Regions from separate parts of the Homo sapiens genome. Here region 2 is linked to region 1. The links come from fine-mapping of genetic effects on gene expression. A gene starts in region 1. The other region holds a variant in brackets. All regions are shown on one strand. Distances are between the middles of the regions.

The links.
Region 2: its variant is fine-mapped to the expression of ASB13 in whole blood (TOPMed, PIP above 0.99). The same link has a PIP of 0.9 or more in tibial artery.

What each region holds. Positions count from the first base shown.
Region 1 is chr10:5,661,421-5,672,975 of GRCh38, forward strand. ASB13 (ankyrin repeat and SOCS box containing 13) reads right to left here and starts at 5,175. Exons shown (of 6, transcript NM_024701.4): 1 at 5,089-5,175. The coding sequence starts at 5,131. RefSeq lists an enhancer at 1-324 and silencers at 4,759-4,808, 5,109-5,178.
Region 2 is chr10:5,634,018-5,645,572 of GRCh38, forward strand. It overlaps ASB13 (ankyrin repeat and SOCS box containing 13), which reads right to left. Exons shown (of 6, transcript NM_024701.4): 5 at 7,753-7,944; 6 at 4,850-6,813. The coding sequence ends at 6,686. Among named protein-coding and RNA genes, the nearest start is that of LINC02677, 22 kb to the left of the region's middle. The variant G/A (reference allele first, on the strand shown) is at 5,052.

The DNA of each region.
Region 1 (11,555 bases):
GATCCAGTAGCATGCTGGCTTTGAATCCAGGTCAAATACCCAAGATGCACCTTTTTTCCTATTTTGTTTTCTTATTGTTTATTTATTTATTTTTGAAACAGGGTCTCGCTGTCACCCAAGCTGAAGTGCAGTGGTGTGATCAGGGCTCACTGCAGCCTCAACCTCCTAGGTTCAAGTGATCCTCCCACCTCAGCCTCCCAAGTAGCTGGGACTACAGGCCCATGCACCACCACCACACTGGATAATTTTTGTATTTTCTGTAGAGACAGGGTTTCACCATGTTGCCCAGGCTGGTCTCAAACTCCTGGGTTCAAGTGATCCTCCCGCCTTGGCCTCCCTAAGTGCTGGGATTACAGGCATGAGCCCCAGGCCCAGCCCAGAATGCACTCTTAAATGTTGCTGGAGTCAGAAATTTTGTTCCGAGTAAATCACCAAGGGGAGTCTGGGGTCCTGGCTGCAGAAATGTCATTTCTGCGTCAAAAACAACCAGCAGCCTCTGTAAGAAGCCCTCCCTGCAAAACCCCAGTAAGCATTCTTGAAATGGTGAGGGTGGGCCCTCCACCCTGACCCACCCATAAAGCCGGGCTGGGGCGGGCGAGCACACACTTGGGGAACCCACCCTGGAAGAACCAAGGCAGGCACCGGAAGCCCCCAGGGAGGGTTTTCTGATGCTGCTCTCAATGGGCTCATCCTCAGCTCTCAGGGAAAAGTCAAGAGTCCTGAGTGACATAGCCCCCCAGGGTCCCAGAAAGCTAAGGATTCATGAACACGCGCTGACTGTCAGAACTGAAAAGGCCTTAGAAATGCTGGACGATGGGCTGGGCGCAGTGGCTCACGCCTGTAATCCCAGCACTTCGGGAGGCTGAGGCAGGCGGATCACCTGAGGTCAAGAGTTCGAGATCAGCCTGGCCAACATGGCAAAACCCCATCTCTACTAAAAATACAAAAATTAGCTGGGTGTGGTGGCATGCACCTGTAATCCCAGTAATAATCCCAGCTACTCAGGAGGCTGAGACAGGAGAATCGCTTGAACCAAGCAGTGGAGACTGCAGTGAGCTGAGATCGTGCCACTGCACTCCAGCCTGGGCGACAGACTGAGACTCTGTCGAGAAGGGGGGGGGAGGGGAGGGGAGGGGAGGGGAGGGGAGAAGAGAAGAGAAGAGAAGAGAAGAGAAGAGAAGAGAAGAGAAGAGAAGAGAAGAGAAGAGAAGAGAAGAGATGAGATCCTGGATGATTAACACTCCCAGAAAAAGCCAAATGTAGCATCCATTCATCTCTGCCTGCTGTCCAAACCACACACAAGTGACGGTAAGGGAATAAAATGGGGGCTAAATCCACAAAGACAAAGAGACCACAGAGGAAAAGATAAATGAAGGATCTCATGGTGACAACTAAAGACAGTGTACGTGACAACCCCAGCACAAAGAGGGTGCCTAACGCATGGCACTTAACCACTATCACCAAATTTTAATAGCGCAGCTCAAATTTCAGTTTTAGTGTCCTTGAAACCCAAGGAAAAAAAATATGGATCTTTATTTTTCTATGTAGAAACTCCCACTTACAAGTCTGGGCTCAGTGTTTTGTTGCTACAGTGATATTTTTCAACCATGTCTTTTTAAATGTTTTCATTATGAATCCCCAAAATATAGTTTGTCGGTAAACTTGAGGTCAAACAGCAGACTGATTTTAAGATGTGTTCAATGAAGCAAAAATGCCAGTATTTGCCTTCTTAGAGGGACAAAATGGTCAAAACTCAGTAAGAGTGGAGAAAAGAAAGGGAAAGAATAAATGAAAGCAGAAGACAAGGAGAAAAGAGGTGAAAATAGGTGGGCTAAGGAGTAAAGGAACTGGGAGAAAGGACCGAAGGTGTCAGGAGAGCTTGGTGAATAACAGGCATTTCCTTCCACCTGCAGGACGCTAAAACCACACTGGATTCGCTGCATTATCCTTCAATGTCTCCTCCCCTGACTCCCTCATCACTCACCCAATTATCTGCTACCCCGACTCCTCCCTTGCCCCTGGTCCACCCCAAAGGCTATGGCCCAGGGAGCATGGGGAGGGTCCCCCAGTCCCACCCTCAAGGCACTGTGGGAGCTCAGGCCCTGACTCAGGACCCCTGAGCTCTGATCCTGCATCCTCCCTGTCTCAGTTAAGGGACCTGAGGGACGCTTTTCACCCTAAATCACCTAAGCCTCAGTTTCCTTAGGACAGCAGGCAATGTCTCCCAGGGCTGCCGAGTCGAGGAGGAGGATAGAGGTACTGTTTTGCCCATAAACATGCTTCCTAAGCCTTTGTAACTTGCTAATTTCCTCTGATACTTCCATTGGCCCTAAATAGGCTTTTCTGGTGTGTCAACAGGCCCTCTTTGAATTCCTATTTTAGGATAAAATAGCCGCCCACTCCAAGTAACTCTCTACCCTTTAGAAATGCCCTGGACTGCTACCCTAGTGGATTCTCCCTCTCCCCGCTCTGACACTGAAATCAAGAGCGATAGAGCTGTGTTTCTGATTAAACACGGAGGATCTTCTCTGCCCCTCAGCAAAGATCTCACTCAACTGAGAGTACCTGGATGGGGAGACATAAATCCATATAAACAAGTAGAAAACAAACAGGCTGGGGAGTGATTTCCAGACCATCGGGGGAGCTGGAGAGCAGGCTGGTGCAGTGGCTAACCAGGATACAGAAGGCGGGCTTGGCACCCGGGGTTGGGACCAGCAAAGAGCAGGGAATCTGAACTACCCCTGGGAGGGCACTGAACGCAAAGGGATGCGCAAATCCCCATAAACAACAGGAAGACACCCCTGCCCCACCCCCACCCCGGCTTCCCAGAGCAGCAGCAGGCAGAGCTGGAAGACCCAAGGCTGCAGGGCACACGTCTCCAAACACTGAACCAGGAGAGAGAGAACACAGGACTCATTGCTTACCTGAGGGGCCTAAGAAGACTGTCTGGGGATAAATTAGGGATTAGGCATGGAGAACACCGAACCCACAGGTAAACAAAAAGAACACCCGCCATGTCCAAGAAAAGCAAGACATTACACAAAAAGAGAAACATAGTCCCCACATAGCAAGTGGCTCAGCTGCAATATTCACAGTCACAATAATGTCAACACTGAAATCTGATTTAAACAAAAACAATTCTACTGGAGGACCCTGGGGGGAACGTACGGGGGAGTGGGGGAGCAGCCAGTAGGTTAGAGGTTCATCTACCACAGAAGGACGTCCATAGGGAATGCAGAATTTCTTTATTTCTTTATTTATTTATTTTATTTATTTTTGAGACGGAGTCTCACTCTGTCGCCCAGGCTGGAGTGCAATGGCATGATCTCAGCTCACTACAACCTCTGCCTATCAGGTTCAAGTGATTCTCCTGCCTCAGCCTCCCCAGTAGCTGAGATTACAGGTGCCCGCCACTATGCTTGGCTAATTTTTGTATTTTTATTTATTTATTTTGAGACAGAGTTTTGCTCTTGTCACCCAGGCTGGAGTGCAATGGCCCAATCTCGGCTTACTGCAACCTCTGCCTTCCAGGTTCGAGTGATTCTTCTGCCTCAGTCTCCCAAGTAGCTGGAACTACAGGCACCCGCCACAATGCTCGGCTAATTTTTGTATTTTTAGTAGAGACGGGGTTTCGCCATGTTGGCCAGGCTGGTCTCGAACTCCTGACTTCAAGTGATCCACCTGCCTCGGCCTCCCAAAGTGCTGGCATTACAGGCATGAGAGACTGCGCAACAGCCCAAAACCTAAATGTTTTGGTCGCGGTACACCACACATCCAGAATTTGAGGTCAGAATGTTAAAATTGTCTAAAGCTCCTACGGTTCGCCTCTGGTGCTGCTGGAATGGCAGTATTGTTTTGGATCCAACACATTCAGCTTATTCATTACACTGGGAATAAAAAACATCAGCAGAACTTATTTGGGGAGAAATATATTAAATAAAAAATGACAATGTCAAAAATACCAGTGAACCTCAAAAGTTGCGGATTCATTAGTTTAAAATGTGCCTTTCTTCTACAGATGCATTCCATAACAAACGATGCAGAAGACATGCTCAGAAGTGATGCCATGAACAGAAATATTAAAATATGTGTTTAAATAAGCTTCTGCCGTTAGCTATTCACTGCTTACTCAATTAAGCTAATCAAATGCAGATCACAGTGTCAGGGTCAAAGTCTTGTGCTTGCCTGGACTGGAATGCCAAGTAAAAACACATGCTTATTAGATACCTTTGATCATGTCAAAGGTGGTTATTTTGCAAAGTCAATTAAAATATCTTTGCCTTGCTATGACTGCAACTTCCTCTTCAGCTAAATTTACCCTTAAGACTTTTCCCTCTTAGGTGCACTACTGTTTTTACCAGGATGAATATGCTTTAGATTTTTTTTTTCTTTTTAGGCTTTCATAGTGCTTCCGTCGCTCATTTCAGTGACCATATTATTGCTTCATAGGCAGCAAAAAAATTTGCTTCCCCAAAGAGTGTCCTTCCCTCAAATCCATTTCATTCTTGGGCTGCTCGGATTTTGGTAAAGTAGGCTGCGAACTGGGATGGCACTTTTCGGAGTGTGCCGGGGTGCCCCAAGGCCACCTTCACTGGAGCGGAGTCGGGGTCACGCGGACGCCTCTGCAGGATGCTCGGACACTGCGCCACGGCCTCACCCGCGCCAGTGGAGGGGGGTTTAGCTCTTACCGTGGGCTCGCGCCTGGCTTCCCCGAGAGGGAGCACCGTGGGCGTTTCCCAGGCTCTCCCCCGCCACTGGGCAACGGCCCCGCACGCGTCCCGCACCTTCCCCAGGGCGCGCGGCGCTCGGTGGGTTTGCGGTTGCGAAACCCCACACCTGGCGAGCCGCACGGACTGCAACCCCGCAGTGCGCTGGCCTGGGACAAGGCACCAGACATGAGAGCCCGTCTGGGATGCGCGGCACCACTGGGACCCTGCTTTCACCGCGGCCCACCCCGCCAAACGCCCCCGCCCACGGAGCCAGCGCGGGGCGCGCCACCACCTCCCCGGCGCAGGCCATCGGATACGCGGCCGGCCTCAGGAGCCGGCGCCGCTGCCTCGCTCTGACCTCCGCGGCGCCCGCACGTACCCACGTCGCCCAGGAAGCAGCCGTCCGCCGCCCGGGGCTCCATGCGGCTCACCGGCGGCCGCGCGGCGACTCTGGGCGCCGGGACCTGGGCCGGGCCGCGCGGGGCCGCTGGGCGGGGCCAGTCTGCGCTGGGCCGCGCGTCGTCCCGAGGCGACCGAGCCGGGAGTTGTAGTTCCCGCCGCCTTGGCGAGGTTCCCGGAGGCGCTGTCCCTGGGTCCGGACTCCGCTGTCGCTGCCCACCCCGCTTCGCCCGTCGCGCCGAGGAGTGTGTGTGCTTGCATCTGCAAACCGTGCGTCCCGTGCACAGAATACGTCCGGTGCAAAACGTGTCCTGTGCACTTGTCCTATGTAAACGTGTGTGTCCGTGTGCAAAACATGCATCCTGTGCATATGTCCTGTGCAAAACATGCGTCCGTGTGTAAACTTGTATCCATTGTAAGCATGCTTCCCTGTGTCCCTTTGCAAAGCATGGATATGTGTTTCCATGTGCAAAACATGTGTCCTGTACAAAACATGCATCCTGTGCATGTGTCCTGTGCAAGCGTGTCCTGTGCAAGCGTGTGCAAAACATGTGTCCATGTATAAACATGTATGTATTGCAAATGTGTCCTGTGCAAGCATGTGTCTGTGTCCACGTGCAAAGCATGCGTCTAGCTTCCAGAGTTCACTTGCATTGTACAGATGCTGATGATGCTCCAGAGTACTCGAGTTCCCCCATGCTTTAACTTTCAAGAACCGCTTCCCACCAGAGCCGGTGTTCATAATCACTGTTTCTTTGATCTTTCAAGATAATAATTTCAAATCGTTCAAATCAATTTCTTAATGCCTTTTCTTTACGGGTGGTTTTTAATCCAATGTTCCCCTAAGCTGCTTAGCAAATGGAAGCTGGGGCACAACCTGGCAGAAATGAAAAACCTGTTTCCTGTTTCCGGAATAATACCCAGTCAACAATTGAGTAAGGGATTTTTATTTTATTTATTTATTTTTGCAAAGCAGCTTCCCAAGTTTAGAAGGTTTAACCTTGTGAAAGTTCACTGTAGCCCTGTCAGGAGATTCGTCACTCACCTGACCTGTACTGAACCTCCATGCAGAAGTTAGTTTGGGCTCAAAAGTAAAAGTATCAGGAATCATCCAGTCTGGAAATAGGTGAGGCCTGGCAGAGCAGCCAGTTTGATCTCTCACACTACAAAGCTTCTGGGATGACCCAGGTCTCCATCTGCAGTCCAGACCGAAGGCACTATACCTAGGGGACATTGAACCATATCTTTTGGAAAGCAGAGCCCCTGGAAATGTGGAGCCCCAGGCCTGGGAATGGAATTTCAAGCCATTTGCACTGGGCATTTAGAGCCTTTTTGCCACTTTCTACCAAAATCAGGCTCCTGCATTTTTCTTGCCGGTTTTCTGCACTTTTTACTAAATGTAACAGATTTTTGTATCGTTATATTTACCATGGATGTTATGTTTTCCCCTGTGGCAATGTCGTGTTTGTATGATTGCATTTTCTTCAATATTTCTTCCTGGACGAAGTGTCATCTAAATTTTAGTATGATCATGTAGAACATATATATATATGTGTGTGTGTATATATTCATATGTGTATGTGTGTTATCCAAGTGTTTCCTAAACATATTAATAAGCAAGTATTTGCTTATTATTTGTTTTTCCTCCATTCTGTTGCTTGACCAAAATATTAAAAGATTTCATTACAGAAAAAGCTTTGCAAAGTTTACATATATATTCAGAAATGCATTCCCTGAAAGTATTTCCTTTTTCTTCAATATTTAGAATGTATTTCCCCAGCAAGAGCCAGAAAATATAAATTATTCTGTTCTGTTCTGTTGTTGTTGCTAAGTCTTTGAGTCCCATCTGGAATTCACTGCAATGTGTAGAATGAAAATATAGGAGCTCAGTTCATTCTTTTCTAAACTGAAATAGAGTTTTTCCAAAAATATTCATTAAATAGTAATCCACTTATCTATTTTTGTGTTAATCTCTTTTTATTGCATGTTGGTTCCAATTACCTTTTGAATCTATTGTAAGAACCTCTATGATATTGACAAAGTTTCTATTACTCATTTAGCAAATATTTGCTGATTACCTAGCCTAAGGTCTGTGATTTTTAAACTAACTACCACATGTGGTTTTTTGTTGTTGTTGTTTTTTGAGACGGAGTCTCACTCTGTCCCCGAGGCTAGAGTGCAGTGGCACCGTGTTGTCTCACTGCCATCTCCGTCTCCTGGGTTCAAGCAATTCTCTGGCCTCAGCCTCCAGAGTAGCTGGGATTACAGGTGCCCACCACCACACCCAGCTGGTTTTTAAAATATTTTTAGTAAAGATGGGGTTTCACCATGTTGGAAGTAAATGTCATTTTATAAGATCATAACTTTTGTATCAGCATTTTAAAATCTGATAAGACCGCTATTTGGAAAGTGGTGTAGTTGGGGACCCCCTACACATTGTTAAATGAGATGTGTTAACCCCTGGTTTTTCTAATAAAGACAGTCTTCATACCACATTTTTAGAGTCTTCTAGGTCATAAGATACTCTTCTTTTGCCTCCAAAATAAATAGCTTGGGTGAGGACTAAATTTTTAGGAAATCCAATTCTATTTGCTTGGATAAGCCATTTTTCCTAAATTTACTAACTCGAGAAATCAAGGTTTTGTTAAACATGTATATTTCTGGGTTTCTCCTGGAGATTCTGGGCTCCAGGGAGAGACGGGGAGGCAGCCCTATAATTTTTTTTAACTATTGCTGCAAGTTTGGCAATCACTGGTATAACCCATCCTCCAAAGGCTGTGAAGAAGCATTTCATTTACAATTTATATTGACTGATTCTATTCCTAAATATAAGAGTATTGAAAAATATATAGGGTTCTTCAAGTTTTGGTTCCTCTCTCCAATCTTCCTGCCATTGTTAACTTTTCCGAGTCCTTAGGAAGTTGCTGGGTGCAGTGGCACACACCTGTAATCCCAGCTACTTGTGAAAATCGCTTAAACCCAGGAGTTTGAGACCAGCCTGGACAACAAAGTGAGTCCCCCATCTCTAAAAAAAATTAAAAAAAAAAAAACAAAGCCCTTAGGAAGTTGTTTTTGGTAGCTTGTCTGGTTTTTATTTGTAGCTGTGGCAGACAGAGACTGTAATGGGCTGTCACCATCTTGGCTGGCACAAGAAATCCTGATCTGATTGGATTTAAGGAAAACAAAGTCATCAGTTTAGGGTTTTCTCCAGCTCAAAGACCAGGCCAGGGACCAGAAATCTTATATGGCCACCCTGCAAGAAACCCTTATCTCTCGTAGCCACACAGCCAAGATTTCTGAAAGCTAAACTCAAAGTATAAGCTTGCAGGTGACTGAAACAATGCAGATTCTATTCTCAACTCTGCAGAGTCTCTCATGGTAAAGGTAGAGAACTAATTGGAAAGGAGTGGGATGCTGAAGAATGGAATGGGAGCAAATGGGCAGATTTTCATGAAGCTGAAGACCTTAAACCCCTGAATTCTGCTGAGCCTTCTTTGGCCAGTAGAAGGAATCCACCTGTGCTTACTCAGAGGGTTAATCTTGCCTGATGAATCTATGATGGCCTCACCAGTGGAAGCTGATTTGCAAAGAGCTGGGGATCCTCCTCAGGATCTACCCCCCACCTCACCTGTCACTGCTTCTAGACCTGTAACCCAGACTCGGCCTGCCCGGCCCTGAAAGGTAAGTAAGGTTCAGAGGGGTTTGAGGCCTAATAAGGCACAACACGCACCATAAAAGTTGCAAGATTTTTGCCAAGTGACATTGGCAGAAATCTGTAGAACTTATATAGGAATGGATCAAAGGGATACTGGATTAGATTGGAAGGAAAATAATGTTGGATCAGGCCAAAATTTTTAATCAGGTTTACCACATCACAATTCTAAAGTCAGTTTGCTTGTTCAAATGGCTAGGCATGTTTCTACAGGTGAAATGCCAGAACTTTCTCAGTACACTTTGGAAAAATGTCTCCTAAAGGCTTAGAATGCTGGAGTAGATTTTTCATGTAAAACCTGTCCACCCATCGCCTAACTCTGGCTCTCAGAATCTGAAGAAAACCCCCTCACAAGACTGAGAAGTCCATTTGTCAGGACGGTGGGGGTCGGGGGTGGGGGCTTCTTAATCCTTGGGGAGTCTAGGTCGGTAATGATGGTGGGGAAGTTGCTGTCATTAAGCTTTACTCGCTGAATTCACTGGGAATGATAGAATCTGATGACTGAGTGGTGGCACTTAATTGCCAAAGCCAGTGTGGGACCAGCTGCCATCATGGGCAGCAGAACTGGCACAGTCATCCAGATGGTCTGTCCTCAGAGATCTTGGGCAATGATTAGTCAGTGACAGCATCCCTAGAGCTGAAACACATGGCAGCCTACTGAAGCCTTACTTGATTTTTACAAGCAGGAAAGCTCTAGGTCTGGCGAAGAGCAGTAAAGAAAAATCATTTTAATAGGGAGTTTCAGCCTCCCAACCAATTCCTAGAGTTGAGCCAGTTCACAGACCCAGAGCTCCTTGAATGAAAGTGGGTCCAGGTACACCTGAACTCTGAGCCACAGAGTTTGTACTGTAACTCGTCCTCCTGACCTTCCCAAAGAATCTCATGGATATTTACTAGGTTGTATATTGACTATGCACTGAAGAAAGGGAAATAACGACTACTCAGCAATTGCGGGTCAATGGCTCTGAACTGACACTAATTCCTGGAGAGCTAAAATACCACTATGTCTATCAGCTAGAATACTAGTTGATAGAAAAAATGATCAGTCGAGTTTGGGCATAGGTTCGTCTCAGATAAGCCAGTGGGTTCTTGAATCCTGTAGTTATTTCTTCAGTTCCAGAATGCATCATTTGAATATATCTACTAGAAACTGGCAGAGTCCCTACATGGATTCTCTGAGCCAAGCAGAAGGCACTGAAACTGCCTCTATCTACCAACATAGGAAAAAGGCATTTCACATTGCTGGAGGAATTGCAGAGTTTAGTGCTACCATCAAGAACATGAACCACCGTGCCTGTAATCCCAGCACTTTGGGAGGCTGAGGCAGACGGATCACGAGGTCAAGAGATCAAGACCATCCTTGCCAACATGGTAAAACCCCGTCTCTACTAAAACTACAAAAATTAGCTGGGCGTGGTGCCGCAAGCCTGTAGTCCCAGCTACTCGGGAGGCTGAGGCAGGACAATCGCTTGAACCCAGGAGGTAGAGGTTGCAGTGAACCGAGATCACGCCACTACACTCCAGCCTGGCGACAGAGTGAGACTCTGTCTCAAAAATAAAAAAACAAAAAACAAAAACAAAAAAACAAAAAAAAAAGCATGAAAGATGCAGGATGGTGACTCCCCCTGCTCCCACCCACCCCATTTCCATTCAAATTACATAATTTTGCCTGTGCAGAAGACAGGCAGTTTCTGGGAGAATGACAGTGGATTATTATAAACTTCATCAGAGGTGAAGCTGCTGTTTCAGAAACGGTTTCATTGCTGGTATTCAGCTATTGGTCTGATGAATGCGTTCTCTGGCTACGTGGTTACACGTGGTTAGTGAAGACCATGAGGAACAGTTTGCTTCCAGCTGGCTGGGGCAGCAATTCACCATCACTCTCTCACCTCAGAACTTTATCAACCTTCTGATTTTATGTCATAATCTGATCTGCAGAAATCTTGGCTGCCTCTCCATTCACCAGGCTATGACTCCCATCGAGTGTTTTGATGATACCAAGCTGATTGGATCTGATGAGCAGGAATTAGTGTCTACTGTCAGCATTTCAGTAAGACGCATGCATGCCAGAGGGTGGGACAGAAATTCAAATTTCTATTGATCTGGGGCATGTCAAGATACACCTCCCAAAGTAAAGGGAAGGGGCTGCATCTGACCCCTCCAGCCACTAAGAAAGAAACATGGCACCAAACAGGCTTCCTTGGATTTTCAAGGCAACATATACCTCATTTCAAACGTTTTTTCGTTTTCTAATATAAGCAGCCATTGGCTGTCACTGGCTCCCTATTTTCAGCTTCTCAAAGTCTTAGGTGTGTGTTTGGCTCCAGGGTGAAGAACATCAGCTTTCCTGCTAGTTAGTCATGCCAGTGAGGTTGGGCATTGATAAAGTGGACAAAGGCATAAATTTCCCTCTAATCACTGCTTTAGCTGCATCCCACAAGTTCAATGTTATGATTTCATTTTCATTCGGTATAAAACATTTTCTAACATTTCTTATGATCTCTTCTTGGATCTGTGGCTTATATAGACATGTGTGTTCTAATTTCCAAGTATTTGGAAATTTTCCAGATATCATCTTGTCATTGAGTTCTAATTTAATACAGAATCTATACATAATATACTCTATAGTATTTCAATCCTTTTAAGTTTATTAAGATTTATATTATAGTGCAGCATATGGTCTATCTTACTGAATGTTCCCTATACACACTAATAGAACATATATTTGGCAGTCA
Region 2 (11,555 bases), 27 kb before region 1:
AGCCTAGGAGATTGAGATCATGCCACTGCACTCCAGCCTGCGCAACAGAGCAAGACCCCGGCTCAAATAAAAGCAAACAAAACCTAAACACTGGTGGTTTTTAAACAACAGAAATCTATTTCTCAAAGTTCTAGAGGCTGAGAAGTCCAGGATCCCTGCCTGGTGATGACTGCTCTCTTCTCCATAGACAGCGACTTCTTTCTGTGTCCTCATCTGCCTGAAGGGGCAAGGCAGCTCTCTGGCACCTATTTTTATTTTTGACACAGAGTTTCACTCTTATTGTGCAGGCTGGAGTGCAGTGGCACGATCTCGGCTTACTACAACCTCTGCCTCCCAGCTTCAAGCGATTTTCCTGCCTCAGTCTCCCAAGTAGCTGGGATTACAGGCGCCCGCCACCATGCTTGGCTAATTGTGTATTTTTACTACAGACGGAGTCTCACCATATTGGTCAGGCTGGTCTCAAACTCCTGACATCAAGTGATCAGCCCACCCTGGCCTCCCAAAGTGCTGGGATTACAGGTGTGAGCCAGTGCACCAGGCCTGGCACCTCTTTTCTAAGGGCACTGGTCCCTTTCAAGAGAGCTCTGCCCTCATAGCTAATCAGCACCCAGAGGCTCCACATCCTAATACCATCACTGTGGGGGTGGGGATTTGAACACAGGAATCTGGGGAGAGACAGACATTCAGACCACAGCATCCCCCAGCTCACCACATGATGAGGTGCAACATCTGTTCCTATACCTGCTCCCTGAAAAACAGACTCTGAGATGCTCGGGGCCAAGATTTGCTTTTATGTGTTCTCATATCATTAGTGCCCAGCAGAGAACTTAAAATAGAACAACTGGTAAAAAAAGGAAAGAAGAAGATGGGTGGGCTTGGATGGGGAAGATGGGGAAGAGGACCAAGGAGCAAGAGGATGTCCCTGCTTCTCCTCTGGTCTTACCCTCTGTCCCCAGCACAGTGGAACAAGCTTCGGGATTTGGATTCACACCAAGAACGGAGGGACTTTTCTTTGTTGATCACTCAGAGTGCAGATGGTGAAGCTAAGTGCACATCCTGGCTCAGCGTCCAGTGGCAGATTCTCCCCAGCCATGAAGTCCGTGTGCACAACAACCGCACACCTGGAGGCCAGATGCTAGAGTGAAATTGTATTTGAACGAATAAATGTGTACACAGGTGCGTGAGAGAGAGAGAGACAGAGACAGGCAGAGAGGCCTATCATCCATCTTTTCTGCCTTTTTTCATGGTTTGGAGAAAAAGGAGGCACTCTTTAGATTGGACCAATTTAAGACATCTTTTCATTCAACTTGTCGGAGATCACAAGACCTTCAAGCCAAAATCACTGAGGCCTCGCTGTCACTGTCATGTGGTGCTAATGTGGAGAAAAGAGAAAAGGCAAAGACTCCAGGGTCTGGAAATATTTTCTCAGCCATTACAGGGGGCACAGCCCCTGCCAGGGCCCTGTGCGCCCCACCTTCATCTCTCCACGGCACAGCTGCTCGAAAGATGAGCAAGCTGTCCAGCTTTGTTCTCAGAGCCAGTCTTACGCTCGTTTTTCCGAATAAAGGAACTCAACTGCCTAGAAGAAACAGGTGTTGCCCACTGGAGAGAAAGCACAAGCAGTTTAACAAAGTGGCCCAGGGCATGAAATGGACAGGGAAAGGCATTCTTTTCATCCCAAATGACTTCAGAGCTCTCTGCAGACTCACCTGGTAGCACAGATGGGATACCACAGGGAGCATTGCTATGGTCCAGGAGTAGACGAGATTCCACTCCCTCCCTGGAAGACCACGGGGAGCCCAGAGCTGAGCAAGAGATCCCACTGGGGATCCCACTGGGGTCTCTTGCTGTCTCCCTCACGACGCCTCCCACCTGCAGAAGGTGGGCAGCACCCCGCCTCCACGGGCTGGGGACAGAGGGTGCAGCTGCATTTTCTTACTGTGAAATGGCCCCTCAATTATGACCTCTCCAAAGGGGAGGGTTTGATACCAGGGACTTTGCCCAGAGCCAGACCTAGAAGACGCACCATTGTCCAGGGAGGGAGCCATACCAGCGCAGCGAGGCCAATCAGTGAGAGGCATTTTACCCAGCACTTTCCTACAGAGGAGATGAGGGTCGGCTCTGTGAGACAAACCTCAGGACACAGGGCTTTGCATACCTAGTTTGTCTGAGAGTAGTTCCAAAAAAAGTGTCAACACCCACTGTGGAATACAAGCTCCTATAACCAAAACCATGCCGTTGTGGCCAACAGGAATCTGAAAGGTGTTTGTAAGCACAACCGAGTTTCTAATTTTTTGGTTTTTTTGCCCTTCGTTGTTCCTCTATGCATTCAATTTTTATTATGAAAAAATCAAACATCAAAACACATGGAGAGTAACCCCATGTTTCTATTTGCCCCCCAACATGAGCAAATAGTAGCATTCTATCATGTGCTTCGTATCTTTTTTTTTTTTTTTTTTTTTTTAGAGATAGGGTCTCACTATGTTGCCGAGGCTGGTCTCGAACTTCTGAGCTCAAGCAATCCTCCCGCCTCAGCCTCCCAAAGTGCTGGGATTACAGGCGTGAGCCACTCTTCCTGGCCAACATCACTTTTTAAGAAATGCAATACAACAGAGGTGAAGTTCCCTGCGTTCCTATCCCCAAGCCACTGGTATCCCCATGATGCCAGTGTGTGGTTTCCATGATTTTATGTATTTACTGCATACGTATGAATTATTAGATGGGCTTTTTAAAAAAATTATACAAATTGACTCATACCATACACAGAAAAGTCTGGCAATTGTTTGATCGACCACTATATTTTTGAGATCTATTCGTGTTAAAACGTGTAGTTCTAATCCATCTTAACTTTTATCGAGTGTAGGTATGACATGTAAGATGTATATGATATTCTACATCTTACTCCCAACTGGTGGGGTTTTCACTATTACAGGTATCGCTGCAGTAAACAACCTCATACATGTCTCCTTGTGATATTGCCTGAGAGTTTCTTTAGGGTATTATTTATATAAAGTAGAATTACTGGGGACAAGGGGTATGCACATTTTTCATTGCATTAATATCAGCCAATAGCTCTCCAAAACAGACCTATCATCAATGTATTCCCCACTAGCAGCCTGTGCATTTCCATTTGCCCACATGGCCCACCCATCCACACTGTGAAACTCAGACCTTTCAATGACTGTCTCAATGGCGACATTCAATGGTAATCACTTTGTTGAATTAAATATTAATTTGAATTTCCCTGATCACTTCTCAGCATCCTTTCCTGGGAGTGGACATTTCAAGATCCCTCTTTTATAAAGCCCTGTTCTTATTCTTTGCCCAGTTTTTTTCTATTGGGTTGTTTATCTTTTCTTTTTTGTAGAAATGGGGTCTCTTTAGGCTGCCCAAGCTTGTCTCAAACTCCTAAGCTCAATCCTCCAGCCTCAGCCTCCCAAAGTGCTGGGATGACAGGCATAAGCCACAGCACCTGGCCCATTTTAATGATCTATCATAAGATCTTTATATATTTTGCTTGCCAATTACTTGTTATATATGTTGCAAACATCTGCTCCAAATCTGTCCACTGCACACTGCATTTGAAAATGTAAACTGAGAAGTCTTATGACTGCAGGACTCCTGAAATAGATGGTATGATCTTAAGGCGGGAATAGTTCACACAGCTGCAAGATCTACAAACATCAACAAAACCACACAACAGTCAATGTAACTTTCATATTTGGGGACCACTTTAGGCTTTTCAAGGCATCTTTTTTTTTTCTTTTTTGTGGGGACAGAGTCTCACTCTGTCTCCCAGGCTGGAGTGCAGTGGCACGATCTTGGCTCACTGCAACCTCCGTTTCCAAGTTCAAGCGATTCTCCTGCTTCGGCCTGCTGACTAGCTGGGATTACAACCATACACCACCACAGCTGGCTTATTTTTGTATTTTCAGTAGAGACAGGGTTTCAACATCTTGGCCAGGCTAGTCTCAAACTCCTGGCCCAAGTGATCTGCCCACCTTGGCTCCCCAAAGTGCTAGGATTATAGACATAAGCCACCCCACCCAGCCAAGGCATCTTTCAATCATTTAATTTCAGCCTCATAAAAACCTGAGGCGGCCGGGCGCAGTGGCTCACACCTGTAAACCCAGCACTTTGGGAGGCCGAGGCAGGAGGATCACGAGGTCAGGAGATCGAGACCATCCTTGCTAACATGGTGAAGCCTCGTCTGTACTAAAAATACCAAAAAAAAAAATTAGCCGGGTGTGGTGGCGGGTGCCTGTAGTCCTAGCTACTCAGGAGGCTGAGGCAGGAGAATGGCGTGAACCCAGGAGACGGAGCTTGCAGTGAGCCGAGATCGTGCCACTGCACTACAGCCTGGGCGACAGAGCGAGACTCCACCTCAAAAAAAAAAAAAAAAAACACAAAACCTGACGCTGGGGACCCAATCTCGTCCACCTGAGGTGACGGGCTTGGCTCAGTGGTTGGTCATCAAGACCCCTTCAATGCTCCAAGTCTGATCCATTATCTCGGTTTTGCAGCTTTCCGGAACAACTCAGAGTAGAGAAGCAGATAAACCTGTGTGCAGTCACAGCCCTGCATAAGGGCAGGGGAGGACCCAAAATCCCAGTCACCTGGTCCCGTGGACAGCGTCTGTCTCCCCCAAGAAAAGTCCACATAAGGGGGGTGCTGAAGTTGGCATCAGGAGACCTGGGGAAGAGATGGGAAAGTGTGGCTCCCTGGCAAGCACAGCGCTGCCAAACGACCTGGGACACAGCAAGACGAGAGCCACCCCTCTCCATCCACACAGGATGCGCCCATCTTGGTGTTTCTGCCCCATAAGAAAAGAGTCGTGTGAACACAGGGATGCACTTTATTCCGCCACTTTTATTGAGCAACAGCCGTGGGGACCTGATTCTGCGCTAAGTGCTCTACTGTGAGACATCACAGGTTGTCATTGCTAGAGGCAAGAATCTCTTACAAAGATGAAAGGGCAGAACCCAGTGCTTTTTTTAATGGTTGTTATTCCATGCAGAAACACTGACTGATCCAGAACTGGTAACTAAGGC[G/A]GTGATCAAACAGGAATGCTTTTCTTCTCAGTTTAGGACGAAGACCCGCCATGACAATGGCGGGAACGCTGGAGTAAAACCTCACGGCGGCCAGCATGAAGTTTTTCGCCAGATTTGTGGCCCCACCCCCAAGTACCCACGCGGAGAGGCCTCCAGTCATACAGCACAAAGGGCATCGCCTTGGGCAGCTCAGGCTCACTCTGTTCCACACTGTCTGCGGTGGGAGGCTCGGGCCGGCCTGGGTGCATCCAGTGAGTACCACGTTCCCTTTTCCCGGCACACTGTCTCCAGGACAGGCGTGACCTGTTCTCCAGAATGGGTAGAGATGGGGTTTCATCAAGTTGGCCAGGCTGGTTTCAAACTCCTGACCTCAGATGCCCCAGAAACCACTCATCCCTGAACTAATCATGCAAAGTCCTCCAGTTTAACTCCCTGTTGTGGGCGGGGTTCTTAAAATTTATGAAGGCAAAGACTCCTAGGCCGGCCCATGCAGTCTGAATACGCTACCGAATGCTCCACCTATGGCTTATAATGCAGAACGACCTGTTTCTATCACTGCAGGACGGGATTGCAAGATTTTCTTATCCTGCCTTGGCTGCAGAGTCCCATTCCCGTCCAACTCAAAGCACTGGGACAATGCTGGATGTGATAGATGGTCTTACTAATTTGATAGCTTCAAGGAGTTAGCAAACTGTAGGGTGGGTGAAGAATTCATTTGACAACCATAGAAACAGATGAAAAACAATTCCCACAGAGTCTCCAAACAGGCCTTTGCACTGAGAATGCCGAGCCACGAGAATATACACCTTGACACACCTTCACACTGCTGTCGGTTTGAATGGCTCATTACCAAAACCTTAGTGGTACCGCCTACGTGTCCTCTAAAAGGTTTTTATCCTACATATAAACTTTTTACAAGAGTTGGAGACCTAATACTGAAGACAAATTTCCTAAGAAACTCAGTGCTACTTGTGGGGAATACAAAGCCAGGGCCTTCCCCCACAAAGACCCATAGAAAGTCCCTGAGTGACAGATGCGCGCAGGCTTGGGGCTGGGGGATGCCTTGGAAAGTGCTCCAGGAAAAGCATCCACACAGCAGCCAGCAGAGCAGCAGTCCCAGGCCACATCCCAGGCCGACCTTCCGTGGGCCCAGCCATTCCCTATGAGCACCGAGGGCAGTCCTGGTGCCGACCCGGAGGTGGTGGCCTGCACCTGGGGCCTGTGCATCTGCGGCAGGCTGCCCCGGTGAGTGAGAATCAGCAACAATGCCCTCAGTCCCCAGCTCTGCCAGCCTCCTCTGTGCTCCCCACGCCGTCTGTCCTGAGAGTGCCTTTGAGGATGGTCCGTAAAAGAGGAAAACTGGATGGTTGGGCCCATGCCCATTGAGAGGGTAGGTTCTGTAGAACAGCGCAGGGCCACACCCACAACTGTGACCTGAGACGCAGGCCTTCCCAACACCCTGGAAACATTATCCAGGATCCAGGAGAGAAGCCTAAACAGGATCGCAGGAAGGGACTCGAAGGAGCGTTGTTCTATCTACAGCAATCACGCTGCTTCAGAGGAACAGGCAGAGCCCTCACCCGGGCAATGCTGGGCACAACGGGGGCAGCCACGGTCCGGACCCCACCTGCAATTCAGTTGTAGGAGAGGTAATCAATGAGCCGGGGCGGGATGTTTAACTTGGCAATCTTCTCCAGCCCTCGGACGCCAGTGGCCTTCCTCAAGTTCACCCTGCAGAGCTGTGACAGAGTCAGAGGTGTCTCTGAAAAAGGGAGCAAGGAAGGATGTGAGGTTAATTTCAGGAAGAAGCACAACACCTGCAATGGAACACAAACTCAGAGGGAATCGGAAACGCCTCCCTTTCCCCTGGAACCGGGATGTGTCCTGTAGGCCTTCTCTGGAAGGACAGCCAGGAACCCGAGGAAGGGAGCCCAGGAAATGAAGTTCGGGGCATGATGTCCACTGGGATTGCCTTTTGTGGGCTTTGGGAGTTTGTTTGGTTTTGAGGTTTTTTGTTTTTTGTTTTTTGAGACAGAAAAAAAGCGACAGAGGCAAGAATCTCTTACTCTGTCACCCAGGCTGGAGTGCAGCGGCACAATCTCAGCTCACTGCAACCTCCGCCTCCTGCATTCAAGCAATTCTCCTGCCTCAACCTCCCGAGTAGCTGGGATTACAGGCACCCACCACCATGCCCGCCTAATTTTTATATTTTTAGTAGAGATGGGGTTTCATCAAGTTGGCCAGGCTGGTTTCGAACTCCTGACCTCAGGTGATCTGCCCGCCTCAGCCTCCCAAAGTGCTGTGATTACAGGTGTGAGCCACTGCGCCTTTTCAAAACCATGGTTTTGGTTTTTTGAGACACGGCATTATATTTCAGCACCCAAACTTGTCATCAAACAACTAATCTGCAGCTAGGAGGCTCATCTGTCAAATGTCCAGCACAGGAGGCACAGGTCTGGTGCCCGGGCAGGTGTCGGCCACAGCTTCTGCTGCTCCACGCCACGGGCCACAGGGAACCCAGGGAGAGCTGGGGCAACAGCACAAACAGCCCCCGCAAAGTGCTTAAGGGTCTGTCCTAGCGCAGAGGACAGGAGCCAGGACTAACAGCCCAGCTCTCCGCGGAAGCCCACAGGGAGCCGGCACGTCAGGGGTCCAGGCTGAAGGCTGGAGGGGATGGGGTGCGCTCGGTGGGGTGTCTCACTTTCGTAGTACTCGAAGCACTTGGCGGGAGCGCTGCTGCTCCACGTGTAGTCAGACGGCTTCTTCCCGCGGTTGTCCCGGGCGTAGATGTTGCCGCCAAACTCGATAAGCATCTCGATGAGGTCAACATTCTTGACCTTGGCCGCGTGGTGAAGGGCAGTCTCATGAAGCTTTGCCGCATTCACGTTGGCCCCTGGAGGTCAAGAGTGCAGAAGAGATTTCACCAAGAAGAGAACTTGAAGTCAGGGGGACAATCAGGTCCGTTTCGTCACACAGCACGGTGGCAGAAGCAATCCCCACCCAGAAGACAAAATCAGGACAGACTCTACCGTAGCTTTCAAAAATGTTTTTCAACATCCAAAAGCAGGAACTACTTACTGTCCCCACTCATGAGAGATAAAGGTAGGCAGCAATAATAAAGAAATAACTAGAAATAGAACCGAAAAGAAGAAAAATAAAACGAAAAATGTCCTGAGTTAAACAACCGTTCTAATGCCCTATCAATCTGCCTTCAGGGGTCCTGAGATTTCCGGAAGCTCAAACCAGAGCCACTCAAGCACTCCCGCCTGGCCTCCAGCACAGACACACACTGCTTCTTCCTCTTGCGGGCCCAGGACGGAGGCTCCAGAAATACTGGTTGAATGAAAGAATAAATGTTCCTTAACAATGCATATTCTTTTACAAAAGGAAAACAGATAACGTACCCAAAACAGTAGGCAATTCAGAGAAGAGAGTAAGCTCTGCACTCCTCAACTTTCTCACGATAAGAGCAGACATTCATCAAGCTGATTAAAAGTAAAGGTAAAAAAAAATTTTTTTTTAAAAAAAAGAGCAGACATTCAGAAAGATGCAAGGAATTAGTAGCTAAATATGGCTGGTTTTGGGTTTTTTTTTTTGAGACAGAGTCTCACTCTGTTGCCCAGGCTGGAGTGCAGTGACATGATCTCGGCTCACTGCAACCTCCGCCTCCAGGGTTCAAGCGATTCTCCTGCCTCAGCCTCCCGAGTTGCTGGGATGACAGGTGTGCCACCATGCCCGGCTAATTTTTCTATTTTTTGTAGAGACGGGGTTTTGCCGTGTTGGCCAGGTTGGTCTCGAACTCCTGGCTACGGGCATGAGCCACCACACCTGGTCACATATGGCATTTTGCAACACACTAAAAAAAATTTTGATAAAAATATGATTTTTGTAACACATCATTCTTAGGGCACAGCCATCACTGATCCGATACAATGGAATCCCCCAGGGCTTCAGAATTCTTTTGAAAGAAAATGCCATTTTATTCGAAGTCTGTTCCTCAAGTAACAAAGGAGGTTATAAGAGAAAACAAATAAAAGAGAAGTGTTTTAAAGAAGCCAAGCAAATCGCCCAGCATCAGTAAAATAATTCGCCAAATGATAGATTCAAACCACAAACATAAAGTATTATCAAAAGTGGGATTTTAAAACAATCAGACACTAGCATGCCATCACTTCCCGACAGTCTCAGAGGGTCAAAAGAGGAGCTGAGAGGTGGAACGCTTTTACATTTTCTAGTTCCTCTAGCTCAAAAAGCATCGGAAAAATCCCGCTTTCTGCTTTAAAATATTTTAATCCCCTAAAAGCACATAAGAACCATGCTCATAACAGCATTCGTGGAGGGATCCTAAGAACGCCCCAGCCCTCCAAAGTGATGACATAATTTAAGAAAGTTCTTTCCACTTCCCGCAGCCAAAACTCAGAAGTCAGAACAGGAAAAGGATCTCTCAACTAGGAAAAATGCTAACTTATCTATGTCCTGAATTTGGCAGAAATGTACTACAAAAAAATAATATTCAAAAGCAATAGATTAAAGAAATATTTCCCCACAATTCAACCTCTCTTTCACATAAGGGGTTTTCCTCCAGTATAATGTTGCAATCATAACACGAAGTAAATTTTAACACTAAACATATGCTTGTAATGAAAAACAAATTGTACCATCCACAGAATCTAAAGTTCAAGTAGCTTTCTCTCATGTCATTAATTCTGGCAATATTCTTGCCAATTGGGAGAGAAAGAGATGGTCTCTATTTTAACAAAAGAAGAAAAACAGAGAAAGAGGCCCAAGGGAGGCACAGCTACTCTCTCACGATCAGGGAGAAAACCATGGCTGGAAAGAGCTCTAAAAATCACGCTCCCTGCCACGCTCCACAGACGAGGCCTTGGCCAGGGGCTCTTGCAGGGAGGCAGCCTTCCCAATGTACATCTTTTCAAAATGTGTGTTTGGCATCATTTGATTGGGTGGAAGGGAAGGAAGGTGAATAAGGAAGGAAATGAAATTGTGAATAAGGGATTGAAGGGAAACACCAGGCCAGGGGTGCAGGCAGCTACATGGATGGATCCTGAAAGTATAGCACTGAGTGAGCCAAGAAGAGAGTCAGAGATGAAACTCGATCAGCTATGTTCATTAAAAATATATGCTTGGGCCAGGTACAGGGCTCACGCCTGTAATCTCAGCACTTTGGGAATTCGAGGCGAGCGGATCTCTTGGGCCCAGGAAATCGAGACCAGCCTGCGCAACATAGTGAGACCCTAGCTCTACAAAAATTTAAAAATTACCCGGGGGGCGTGATGGCACACATCTGTGGTCCCACCTACTCTGGAGGCTGAGGTAGGAGGATCACTTGAGCCCGGGAGGTTGAGGCTGCAGCAAGCCACGATCGTACCACTGCACTCCAGCCTGGATGACAGAGTGAGGCCCATAGTGAGAAAGAGAACATAAACAGGTACTCGTTAGAGGAAAACAGGGCCAGACACGGTGGCTCATGCCTGTAATCCCAGCACTTTGAGAGCCTGAGGCGGGCAGATCACCTGAGGTCAGGAGTTCAAGACCAGCCTAGCCAATATGGTGAAACCTCGTCTCTACTAAAAATCCAAAAATTACCTGGGCGTGGTGGTGCACATCTATAATCCCAGCTACTCAGGAGGCTCAGGCATGAGAATCGCTTGAACCAGGGAGATGGAGGCTGCAGTGAGCAGAGATCACACCACTGCACTCCAGCCTGGGTGACAGAACGAGACTCCATCTCAGAAAAAAAAGAAAGAAAGAAGGGAACAGATACAGAGGAAAGAAGGAAGAGAGAAAGAGGGTAGGAGAGGGAAAGAAAGTAACTTTGTGTGAAGCAAGGATGGTAACATACCTTGAACTGAGAGGCAAGAGAAAGACTGAGGCAGAGACAGAGACACAGAGACAGAGAGAGACAAAGACAGGGAGCCAGGAAACAAGCAGGGAATTAAAAGCTCTGAACTTCGTGCTTCAGAGAAAAGGGGTCAACACAGGCTCATTACCAAAATCCTGCTTTCAACACAAAATAGGATTAAAGTGGATTCAGAGAACCCGTGGCCAGTGACGTGACGGGACCGCCTAAGACCTTAGCACGCCAAGACTGGCACAATCCTGGAACATAAACACAAATAGCTCAATAGGTGCTTGTTACCACAAGAGAAATTGAAAAAAAAAATTAAATTTAAAAAATTATAATTAAAAAATTTTTTAAAAATTAAACAACAATTTTAAAAAAATTTTTTAAATTGTGCCAGGGCCAGTGCTAAGAACAAAGGTGGAAGCAGGACCGTCCTCAGGGAGCCGCTTCCGAACACTCCTGGCAGAGTTCAACATTCACTGTCAGTGATCAGATTAAAAATTACTTCACCATCATAACCGGACTTTCACCCTCCCCAGCCCTCCTCCTTTGCAAATACAATCTGGTTCCTGGACTCGCCTCACTGCCTACAAAGAACAAGAACAACGGTCTCCACGTCCCCCGTGGGGTGCAACGTGGCT